2 separate regions of the Homo sapiens genome follow, and region 2 is linked to region 1. Evidence: fine-mapped expression QTL. A gene starts in region 1. The other region holds a variant in brackets. All regions are shown on one strand. Distances are from middle to middle. Region 1 holds the start of LINC02389 (long intergenic non-protein coding RNA 2389). Region 2 overlaps LINC02389 (long intergenic non-protein coding RNA 2389).

Region 1 (5,385 bases):
GAGGAAGGGCCCTCTTCCTGGTTTGCAGATGGCTACCTTCTCACTGTGTCCTCACACAATGGAGAAAGGGAGTATGTTTTGGTCTCTTCCTCTTCTGATAAGGGCACTAACCTCATCATGAGGGTCCCATCCTCCTGGTGTCATCTAAACCTAATTACCTCCCAATGGCCCCGCCTTCAAATACCATCACGTTGAAGGTTGCTTCCTTCCTGGTCGTTTGCTCTGGTGAGACCAAATGACCTGCAAAGTGTCACTTGATTCCATTCTCTCCATCCCTTCCATCCCAGGCAATCTTTATCTAGCTACACCAACCTGTGCCCCAGGGGCTTCAAGAGTTGTTGTTGTTTTAACATTAAAAAACCAGAAAGTTCACTTGTTTCTTAGTGTTTACATCCTTGCTATAACAATTCTAGTTTTCCTTTAGGCAATGCTGATCACTGGGAAGGAGGTGGATCAATTCTCCTATGGGACCAACAGTTTTCTGGGAAGAAACTTCCTGATACCTCAGCCTAGGAATCTCCCTATCCCTGGAGAGTCCAGGAATCTATATTAAAACATGAAACAAAGCAAAAAATAAAAAAAAACCTCCTTAGTAATTGTTTTCTTTTTGAGACAGGGTCTCACTCTGTTGTCGAGGCTGGGGTGCAGTGGCACAATCTTGGCTCACTGCAGCCTCCGCCTCCCATGTTCAAGTGATTCTCCTGCCTCAGTCTCCCAAGTAGCTGGGACTACCAAGTGTGCACCACTATTCCCGGCTAATTTTTCTATTTTTAGTAGAGATGGGGTTTCATCATGTCCACCAGGCTGGTCTTGAACTCCTGGCCTCAAGCAATCCGCCCACCTTGGCCTCCCAAAGTGCTAGGATTACAGATGTGAGCCACTGTGCCTGGCCTTCCTTAGTAATTTGAACGTTGAACTAAGTTTAGCAACCACTGAACAAGTTAACTATAGCCATATATCACCTGATGACGGGGGTAACGATGGGGAAATTGTTAGGTAATTTCAACATTGTGCGAATATCACGGAGTGTGCTCACACAAACCTAGATGGTATAGCCTACTACACACCTGGGCTATATGGTGTAGCCTATTGCTCCTAGGCTACAAACCTGTATAGCAAGTTACTGTGCCGAACACTGCAGTCAGTTGTAACACAATGGTAATTGTGTATCTAAACATATTAGAAAAGGTACAGTAAAAATACAGTATTACAATCACACAGGACCACCATAGCACATGAGGTCCATCGTTGACTGAAACGTGGTGTGGCACATGACTGTATTGTAATGGTCTCCTAACTGGTCTCACTGCCATCCATTTTGGACCCTCCCCCTGCCCACCCCACCTCTCTGCTGCTTGGCTATACACTGCTGCCAGAATGATCTTTCTAAAATGAAAAACTAATTGGGCCATCCCTCTGGTCAAAATCTTTCTTCAATTTCTGGAGGGTAAAAGCTAAAATCCTTATCTTAGCATGATTTGACCCATGGTTAATTTTCCGTCTTATTTTCCCACAGCTTCCCCATTCATTACCTCGTGCAACCTATCCTCACCAGCACCATAATATCAACCATTGGTGGAGCTCCTTGAGCTCAGCACTATACTAGCTCCTTTGTGCTATCTCACTTATTCCTCCCAAGAGCTCTGTGAAGCTTACTGGCACTGTATTACAGATGATGAAGGTGAAGTGAGCAGTTACATCCTTGGCCAGTTGGAAGGAGGTGGATGAATTCCCCTATGTGATCAACAGTTTTCTGGGAGGAAACTTCCTGATACCTCAACCTAGGAATCTCTCTATCCCTGGAGAGTCCAGAAATCTATATTAAAATGTGAAACAAAGCAAAAAAACAAACAAACCTCCCTTAGTAATTTTTTTTTGTTTTTGAGACAGGGTCTTGCTCTGTCGCCCAGGCTGGAGTGCAGTAGCGCAATCTCAGCTCACTGCAACCTGCTCACTGCAACCTATTTAGCTGGCAAATAACATCTGGATCTATCTGACACCAGAGCCTGAGCTTTTCCTTTGCTACACTGTCTTATAACTTTGCCCATAACTCCAAGTTCCCTGAAGGCCCCCCACTCCGCTAATGCCCTCATACTGCTGTGTATTCATAAATCCTTGCTTCGAGCACCCTCCTTGCTTCAGTCTGCCTGGCAGATACCTACCTATCCTTTTGGTCTCATCGCACACATTAATGAGGTAAAATCCAATCTATGCCACTATATGATTTGGGGCAAGTTACTTAACATCTGAGACCTTCAATTTCCACATCTGTACAATGAGAATAATTTCAATCTCATAGGGTTTGTTGTGGACAATTGCCGTCTTTGCTGCCCAGAATTTACTATGCTTTGGCAACATTGCCTTAATTTTGCTTGGGGAGCCAGCCCTCCTCCACCTCTGCCCATGTACTTCCGGTGACAGTGATGGCCCTGGAGGGAGCACAGGGCCTGAGCTCAGACACTCAGCACTCTTCCTCCTCCTCACCATGGTGTCTGACCCATGGATGAGCCACAGGAAAAGAAGCTCAATTCCTAGGCTCTTGTTTTGAACTCTCACGTAAGCAGACTCACTCATTTCTACTGGATTTGGTCCTAAGTTGCTAAAGTTTGGGGAAAATTGGGTTACATATAGCTTATGTGATTAACTCCATAAATGAATATGCAACAGAATTTAACCTGGAAGGAAAAAGCCCAGGAGTTGTTGCTGGCAGCTCTCTTGTAACCATGAGGGGAGAGCTTGTTGGAGAAGAGTTAACACTCAGCAAGCAGAGCTGAGAAACAGAGAGAAAGCAGGCTGCTTTCAGGGCCTGTGAGCTCTGGATCAGGCCACGCCCAAAGCCAATTTGTCTCAGCTTATTTACTATATCAGCTAACATTCCAATTTTGGGGTTTAGCCAGTTTGGTCAGATTTTCTACCACTCATGTTGAAAAACTCTTAACTGAAACAGAGGTGTTGTGAAGATTACAGATTATAAGGGCAAAATGGTGGCTGTATCAGTGAACAGTAGTCAGGATTATTTTTTACTTTCCAGTGACTCAAACCTCTCCTAAACTGCTCTCTCAGTTTTGGCTCCGTCTTCCCATGATAATAATAGGTGGTGTAGAGAGGTGACAGAGTCAAGGAACATGGTTCTTGTTTTCTGAAGATGGTTCTTTCCTCAAGCCCTTTGAGTCTTCTTTGGTCTTATATTCTCATCACAGAAGGAGAGGTGATTGTCTTTCCCCAGTTTTGTCTACCATTCCGGTTCCATCTGCATTCCCGGAGGAGTCCTGTTGAGGGCAGAGTGACTGTGAGCAAAACAAGAAGAGCTGTGTCACCAAGTTCCATAAAATCTGGGAGCCCAAGCAGCATATTTGTGGGATTTGTCTGACAGAACGCAATGGAAACAGAGCGTGGCATTCGCTCCATCTCCCCCAGGTGAGCGGCAGCTTTCTCACGGGGGGTCGGGGGCGGGGGGGGGGGGGGGCTCTAGGGCATCTCTAATGGCGTCTGCGGGGAAGCAGCAGGGCTGGGTGAGAAAGTGGGTCTCACGGGACCTGCAGTGTTCAGCAGAGCCGTGGGAGTGCCTGCTGGGAGCATACTTGTTTGGGAACACATGAGAGGCACCCCCTGAAGATTTCAAGAAAACCGGATAGCATTAGGAGATATACCTAATATAAATGACGAGTTAATGGGTGCAGCACACCAACATGGCACATGTATACATATGTAACAAACCTGCACGTTGTGCACATGTACCCTAGAACTTAAAGTATAATAAAAAAAAATATATATATATACATATAAAAAGAAAACCTTGCCCAGTTAAGGGGATGGGAGGACTTTATAGGCCCTGTTTCAAAATATGTCTGTGAGAACGGTGTTGAGTCATTGTTGCTGCAGGGACCCTATCTGGACCAAGAAGTTGCTAAGGTCTGGGGAAGGTTGAGCTACATATAACGTATGTGATGAACTCCACAAATGTCTATGCAACAGAATTTAACAGATGGTGAAAAGTGTAAAGATTTTTGTTGCATGTATAGCTATGGAGCAGAATTTCTAGTACATTTGTCAAGTGTGAAACAAATTACAGAATCATGATATTATTTAATAAAAAGTGGTTATATCACAATAATAAACATTACTAATGGCAATCCTAGGCATCATGTAGCTCAATGATTTTCAAAGGTTTTTAAGGAGCAGAACATTATAAAATTATTGTTTAGACTTGTACTTTAAGTAGATAATATTTGCACAAGGTGAAAATTTAACATGTACGAAAAAGCACATAGGAAAACTAGGTCTCCCTCCACCCCTTGTCCCCTATCCACTCAAAGCTTCTACCCACAGGAAACCGATGTTACTCCTTTCTTTTGTATCCTTTCAGAGATGTTTTATGCATATTCAAGCACATTCTCACACACACACTTTCGTAAGCAGTAACACAATAACCTTCTGAACTTTCCTTTTTCACTATGTACCATGGAGATTGTTCCAGAACAGTGCAAGTAGAGCCACCTCGTTCTTTTTTACTGCTGCATAGATTTCCATTTCAGGTCTGTGCACAATACATTTATTCTCTAATCTATTATTAGATTATTTGTTTGCTTCCAATTTCATATCTATGGAATATGCATATCCTTGTACATATGATGTAATATTGCTAATAAGGAAGTTAGCTAAAGAATAAATTCTAAGACATGGAATTACTTGTCAACAATGCACATTTAAAATTTTGATACATGTTGCCAAATTGCTCTCCACAGATGTTCCATAAGTTTCTGCTTCCATCAGCAATGTAAGGAAGTGCCCAATTCCTCCTACCCCCACATTACTGAGAATCTTATCAAATTTTTTGATCTTTTCTGATTGGGTGAGTACTTAATGTATGTTTGAAAAATATGCATAAGGTTGACATATATTTAAAAGTTATTTATATGTCCTTTGTTCATAGGCTTTGCTCATTCTTGCTGTTTTTTTTCTTACTGGTTTTTTTTTTTTTTTTTTTGAGATGGAGTCTCACTCTGTTGCCCAGGCTGGAGTGCAGTGGTGCGATCTCGGCTCACTGCAAGCTCCGCCTCCCGGGTTCATGCCATTCTCCTGCCTCAGCCTCCCGTGTAGCTGGGACTACAGGTGCCCGCCACCACGCCTGGCTAATTTTTGTATTTTTTTTTTAGTAGAGATGGGGGTTTCACCATGTTAGCCAGGATGGTCTTGATCTCCTGACCTCGTGATCAGCCTGCCTCGGCCTCCCAGAGTGCTGGGATTAGAGGCATGAGCCACCACACCCAGCCTTTTTCTTACTGATTTGTGAGTTTTTTATGCGTTAAGAAAAACATCCTTGTCTGTAATCTGTGTCACAATATTTTTCTCATTTTGTCAATTATCTTTTGACTTTGTTCATGC
Region 2 (5,385 bases), 68 kb after region 1:
GTGTGTGTGTGTGTGTGTGTCTTTGTTGTTGATGGTGAATTTTTTGTCATGGTAACCATTACCTTCTGAGCTATGGACCTCTGTCCCAAGATCCTGGAGCCGTAAATTGTTGAGGTGTCCTGTTGAGACACACGAGACCTGCAGATAGGCCTGGGATTTCAGGAAGCAGTCTGCGACCAAAGGTATCCTTCAGCATCCTTCTCAATGGCCTCTTTTCCTATGTTCATTCATTCCTGCACCCAGCTTGGCCTTCTATCATCTTGCTGTCCTGAAGCCCCTGGCTGTGTAGTCTAAGCTCCCACTCCAGGAGGTTTTCTCACAGGGCCCAACCCCACACAGCACAGCGGCCTTGTCCTGCCCCCCGGCATGCTAGTGTGTGACGTTCTCTTTATCTTTCTATATGAAGAGAAGTCCTATACTTGTTCATACCACTGTACATTTGGAATAGGCTGGAAGGACATTTCCTGGGCCTCTAATCACTTCTTCTGCCCACATTTCCTATACAACCTGGCTTGGCGTTTCTACTTCCAATCTGCTTGAGTCAGTGCCAGATTTGGGGCTTGATGCTGTGCATATGTCACCTGCTTCCTAGTCTCAGCTGCTTATGCCACACACACACACACACACACACACACACACACACACACACACACACACTCCCCTACATCCAAACTCTGGCTGTACTTAGAGCATCCTTCATTTAAGGGTATAAAAGTCGAGTATCGTGAGAGAAGGATGGGATGGGTTATTTTCTTTGGGTCAGTTACCTTTTGGTTTAATAAGCAATATCCAAGAGGCATGAAGATAATAGTCCCTGGTTGGAGAATCTCCTTTTTGTCACTCTTAATATTTCCCCTTTGAGTTGCCATTGGATACGTATACTCCATCAAGTCTGGAGTCCAACCTCACAGGCATGGGTTTGGAGCTAAGCTTCTGCTGACTGTCACATTGGGCAGGCAGTGGGGACCACAGAAGTTCCAGGTGAGCTGATGGGATTTAAAGAATAGTCTTGGAATTAGGGATGTGGAAAGTATCAGTATTTATCTTTGGTACAGGTGGCCTTCCTGTTCTGGAACCAAACATTTTCCCTCAAGAAACTCTTTTTCATTCTCAAGTCACATCAGCCATAGTCACACATGGGATCAATCCCCTACTGGTTTTTATTATTGTGACTGGGAATTGTGATCCAATCCACTCCACCAGCCCACTACCCGCTAGCCTTATTGGCCTATTGCAACCTACCCATGTGTGTGGCCAGGGAGGGCTACGCTCCTTCCCTCTGGTTTCTGTTTTCCCCATGGTTTCCATGTGGCTGCTGCTGCTGCTGCTGCTTCCTCTTGGCTCTGCCCCGGCTCCAGCCATCTTCCCTATCACTGGTGGTTGCTGCTTCTGCAGGGCTCTGATTCTAGGAGTTTCTCTTACAAGGCACAGCTCCACAAAGCAGAGTAGCCTTGTCCAGCCTCCCTGGCATGCTAATGTGTGACACTCTCTTTATCTTTCTATATGAAGGGAGGTCCTATACTTGTTCCTGCCACTGTACATTTGGAATAGGCTGGAAAGAAATTTCCTGGGCCTCTAACCACTTCTGCCCACATTTCCTATACAACCTTGGTTGGCGTTTCTATTTCCAGTCTGCTTGAGCCAGTGCTTGAGCTTGCTGCTCTGCATATATGTGACCTGCTTCCTAGTCTCATGCCTGCCTATATAGCACAAACACTGGAGGTATACAAACCTTCGAACCCCATCTATGCTGCCATGGCTCCAGAAAGCACCATGATCCTTCCAAGCTTGGCTAAGGGTTCTTTACAGATCAAAATGGAAGGACATTTTTTGCCTCCTTAAGTGACAGGGCTTTCCACCAACCTTCCAGTGGAAATATTCCTATGATAATTCAGTTTCATAACTAGCTTGCTAGAGTTCTAGAGAAGCACCCCAACTTATGAATAAGTTCAGGTTCAGGAAATGAGGCAAGATTGTTCAAGTGTTTGAGGCGTGAAGCTCTGATCATCAACCCCAAAGGTTTCCTTTTCCCCTCTCTCAGGGAGTCTGGAGCCCTCAGCAGTTGAAAACTTTCCTTCATGGTCTTCTTGAAAACTCTGAGTGCCCACACATAACACAAAACTCCCGTTAGCAGCATTTTCATTC[A/T]CAAGGAGACCTTTGGGGTCCATACAGATTTTTTTTTTTCAGGCTAGCCTAAAAATTGTATTTTTTGAAAAAGAAAAAAGACATTATCTGTAGCTTGAGAGGCAGAAATTGTTTCTTTTTAAAATGCTTTGTTGTACTTTCTAAGTTTTCTGCACTTTAAAAAAAATAAGATTCAAAGAACCCAGCACATATTTACTGTTAAACCTGAAAATATTTCTCAACCCCACTCACTTAAGAATCTATATAGTGGGAATCATGTTTTCTAATGCCCTTAATTGTCTTAAAAATTTATCTGTTGGTTGTCAGTTAAATAAACACCCAGATGTGCTATTTTATAGATCATACAACATATCAAATGTACCCCTTTTTATCCTCTGTATTCTGCATGGCTCCTTGGTCCCTGGCTTTCAGAGCTAAGCTTAAGTTCTTTGTCAAGGCAGGTTAACTATAGCAGACAGAGCTCTCATCTCCTCTCAGCTCAAAGGAGTAAGTGACTGTTGTGGTTCATCTATGGGAAACTGTGCTAGCAGAGCTTTACTTTCCTGGACCTGCCGCAGAATGAGATAGAAAGGGAAGGAGCTATAGCCACAGCATCTGGGAAGGCTGTAGTTCCTGCTGATGCTCTTGGCTCAGTCAATAGAAGAACAAACATGAGGATCAAAAGGATGCTCATAAGAGTCTTTGTGGAAGCTGTGGAGGGCAAAAAAAGAAGGGGATAAGATCTGAGTAGAAAGAGACTAAAAATGAATTCAAATTCATTAGCGTTGCTGGTGGAGACTGTTAATGATTCAAAGTATTTATTTGGATCAGAGAGTCACGGGACTGTTCAATTGAGTGTTTATTTAGAAAAATAGAGCTAGCAGACTCTCCAGAAAGTATAAATTGGGCTTTGGCAGGAAACCAGCTTCTTTTTGCCATCAGAATGTCATGCGAGCCTCAGGAATGGCAAACATCTGTTTGAAGGATATCCTGACCTTGAATCAGCAGAAAACTCAGAAGAAACTGCATCAGGATTTGATGTGTAGTTGTCATTTAAGACAGCAAGTGCAGTGGGCATCATTGTGGCCAAGTATTAACAATGGACCAACTATTCAATAAATATTTGCTGAATGTCTACTATGTGCCAGTTACTGCTATGTGCTGGGGATACAATAGCTACTAGGACATACCTATGGCCCAAATAATTTATTGCTTCACATAGACACTGGGATAAAAGTTCACAGTGTGTTGTCATGAATACACTGTACATTTACCGTGTTCTTTTCTTGTGCAAGTTAGAATTTGGTGGACAATTACAATGGATATAATATACATCAGTAAGAGAAGCTAAGCCTAGCTCACTATCTTGTACTGCCTAGTTAGCCATTTTTTTTTTATCTCTTGACCATTTACTCATTAAAATATTGGCAGGCCCACTGAGGGTGGTTGTGTTAAGATTAAAATTATGAAAATACCCTGAAATTCATGAGCATAAGTTTGCTTTTGCACATTATGCAATGTGAAAAATACTTAGTTTTCAAATTTTTAAAAACATTTCAGAATTGTAGCTTGTAGTCCTAACAACTTGGAAGGCTGAGATGGGAGGATCACTTGAGCCCTAGGAGTTCAAGACCAACCTGGGCAACATAGTGAGATCTTGTCTCAAAATAAATTTTTTTTTCCAGAATTGTAGATAAGAAATGATGGACTTAGAGTACTAGTGAAGAGTGTACAGTGTAATTCAAATAATTTATTGCTTCACATAGATACTGGAATAATAGTTCATAAAATGTGTTGCCATGAATATACTATACTTTTGCTGTGACTATATCATCAGATTTACCTAGAAAACAATAGATTTTTTCCTTACAAACAAATTTAATTGGAGGAAAATCACCACCACCTCTTACTGATCTTTTGCCATTCATGTTTGGGTTGTTTCCCATGTTTCAAGGCTGGTATTCCCTTGGGATTGCTCTGCTAGTCGACTTCTTGTGAACTGTAGTGTGAAATAGGAAACAGAATACCACCAGAGCCACACTAAAGCTTCTGAATTGGAGCCAGGAAGTATTTAATTTGATGCACTAAACAGCATAAAGCCAACATCCTGGCTCATGACCCCAGTGGTATCAGCATCAACAGCTGGATGAAAGCAGGGGTGGGGGGGATACAAAGATGGGTTGGTGAATACAACCCACTTGCCTTGAGTCTGCATTTGTGCATCCCAAACTTCTTCCTGGCTTTGTACTTTCTGTTCCCTCTATCTGGAACACACTTCCTTACGACTTTTGAAGAACCAGTTTCTTCTCATCATTTAAGCATCAGCTGTGATGACACCTCTGAGGGAGGCATTCCTTGACCACCCTATTTATTTATTTCAGATGGAGTCTCACTCTGTCACCTAGGCTGGAGTGCAGTGGCATGATCTTAGATCACTGCAACGTCTGCCTCCTGGGTTCAGGCGATTCTCCTGCCTCAGCCTCCTGAGTAGCTGGGATTACAGGTGCCCACCACCATGCCCAGCTAATTTTTGTATTTTTTTTTTTTAGTAGAGACAGGGTTTCACCATGTTGCCAAGGCTGGTCTTGAACTCCTGACCTCAAGTGATCTGTCCACCTTGGACTGCCAAAGTGCTGGGATTACAGGCGTGAGCCACCATGCCTGGCCAACCAACCTATTCAATGTTGTCTGCCTTCAGTCACTCTTTATAACATTACCTCATTTTTATTTTCTCCAAAGAACTTCTATACAATGATCTTGTCATTTGTTTGCTTATTTACTTGTTTATTATTTTTCTGCTTCACAGAGTAAAGACCTATCTGACTTGTCCATTGGATCCTTAGTCCCTAGAGCAGTACCTGGCACATTAAGGGGCCAAATAAATATTTGTTGGATACATGAATGACCCTTGTGATATCACTAGTTTCCCTATTTTATAATGGCTGAACCACTCTCATCCCAACATCTCAGTGATCCCTTTGTGACAAGTGTCCCAGAAGAAAAATATTGCAAATGTGGGAAACATGATGGGTCACAAAGTGTGGTAGAATATTACATCAGCTTCATAAACTGTGAATCATAAATCATGGTTCCATCTGTTCTGTGACAGAGTGAAAACAGCAAAATTTTCCACAAGATAGAAACTAAAAACAAAGACAAGTCACAAGTTTCAACTCATGGAGTACCTGTTACTATTATTTTGGATCGTTTCCCCTGTCCTCTATTCTTCAGCAACCATTTCAGTCATGCTGTGCCTTTCTG

Evidence for each region. PIP is the estimated chance that this variant, and not a neighbour inherited with it, causes the effect.
Region 2: its variant is the best candidate, but not a certain one, in a credible set for the expression of LINC02389 in prefrontal cortex (ROSMAP, PIP 0.74).

What each region holds. Positions count from the first base shown.
Region 1 is chr12:64,880,449-64,885,833 of GRCh38, forward strand. It overlaps LINC02389 (long intergenic non-protein coding RNA 2389), which reads left to right and starts at 3,326. Exons shown (of 3, transcript NR_033988.1): 1 at 3,326-3,417. It overlaps TBC1D30 (TBC1 domain family member 30), which reads left to right. Exons shown (of 12, transcript NM_015279.2): 12 at 1-585.
Region 2 is chr12:64,947,967-64,953,351 of GRCh38, forward strand. All of the region lies in intron 2 of LINC02389 (long intergenic non-protein coding RNA 2389), which reads left to right. The region is part of intron 3 of LINC02231 (long intergenic non-protein coding RNA 2231); the gene reads right to left. Among named protein-coding and RNA genes, the nearest start is that of LINC02231, 42 kb to the right of the region's middle. The variant A/T (reference allele first, on the strand shown) is at 2,146.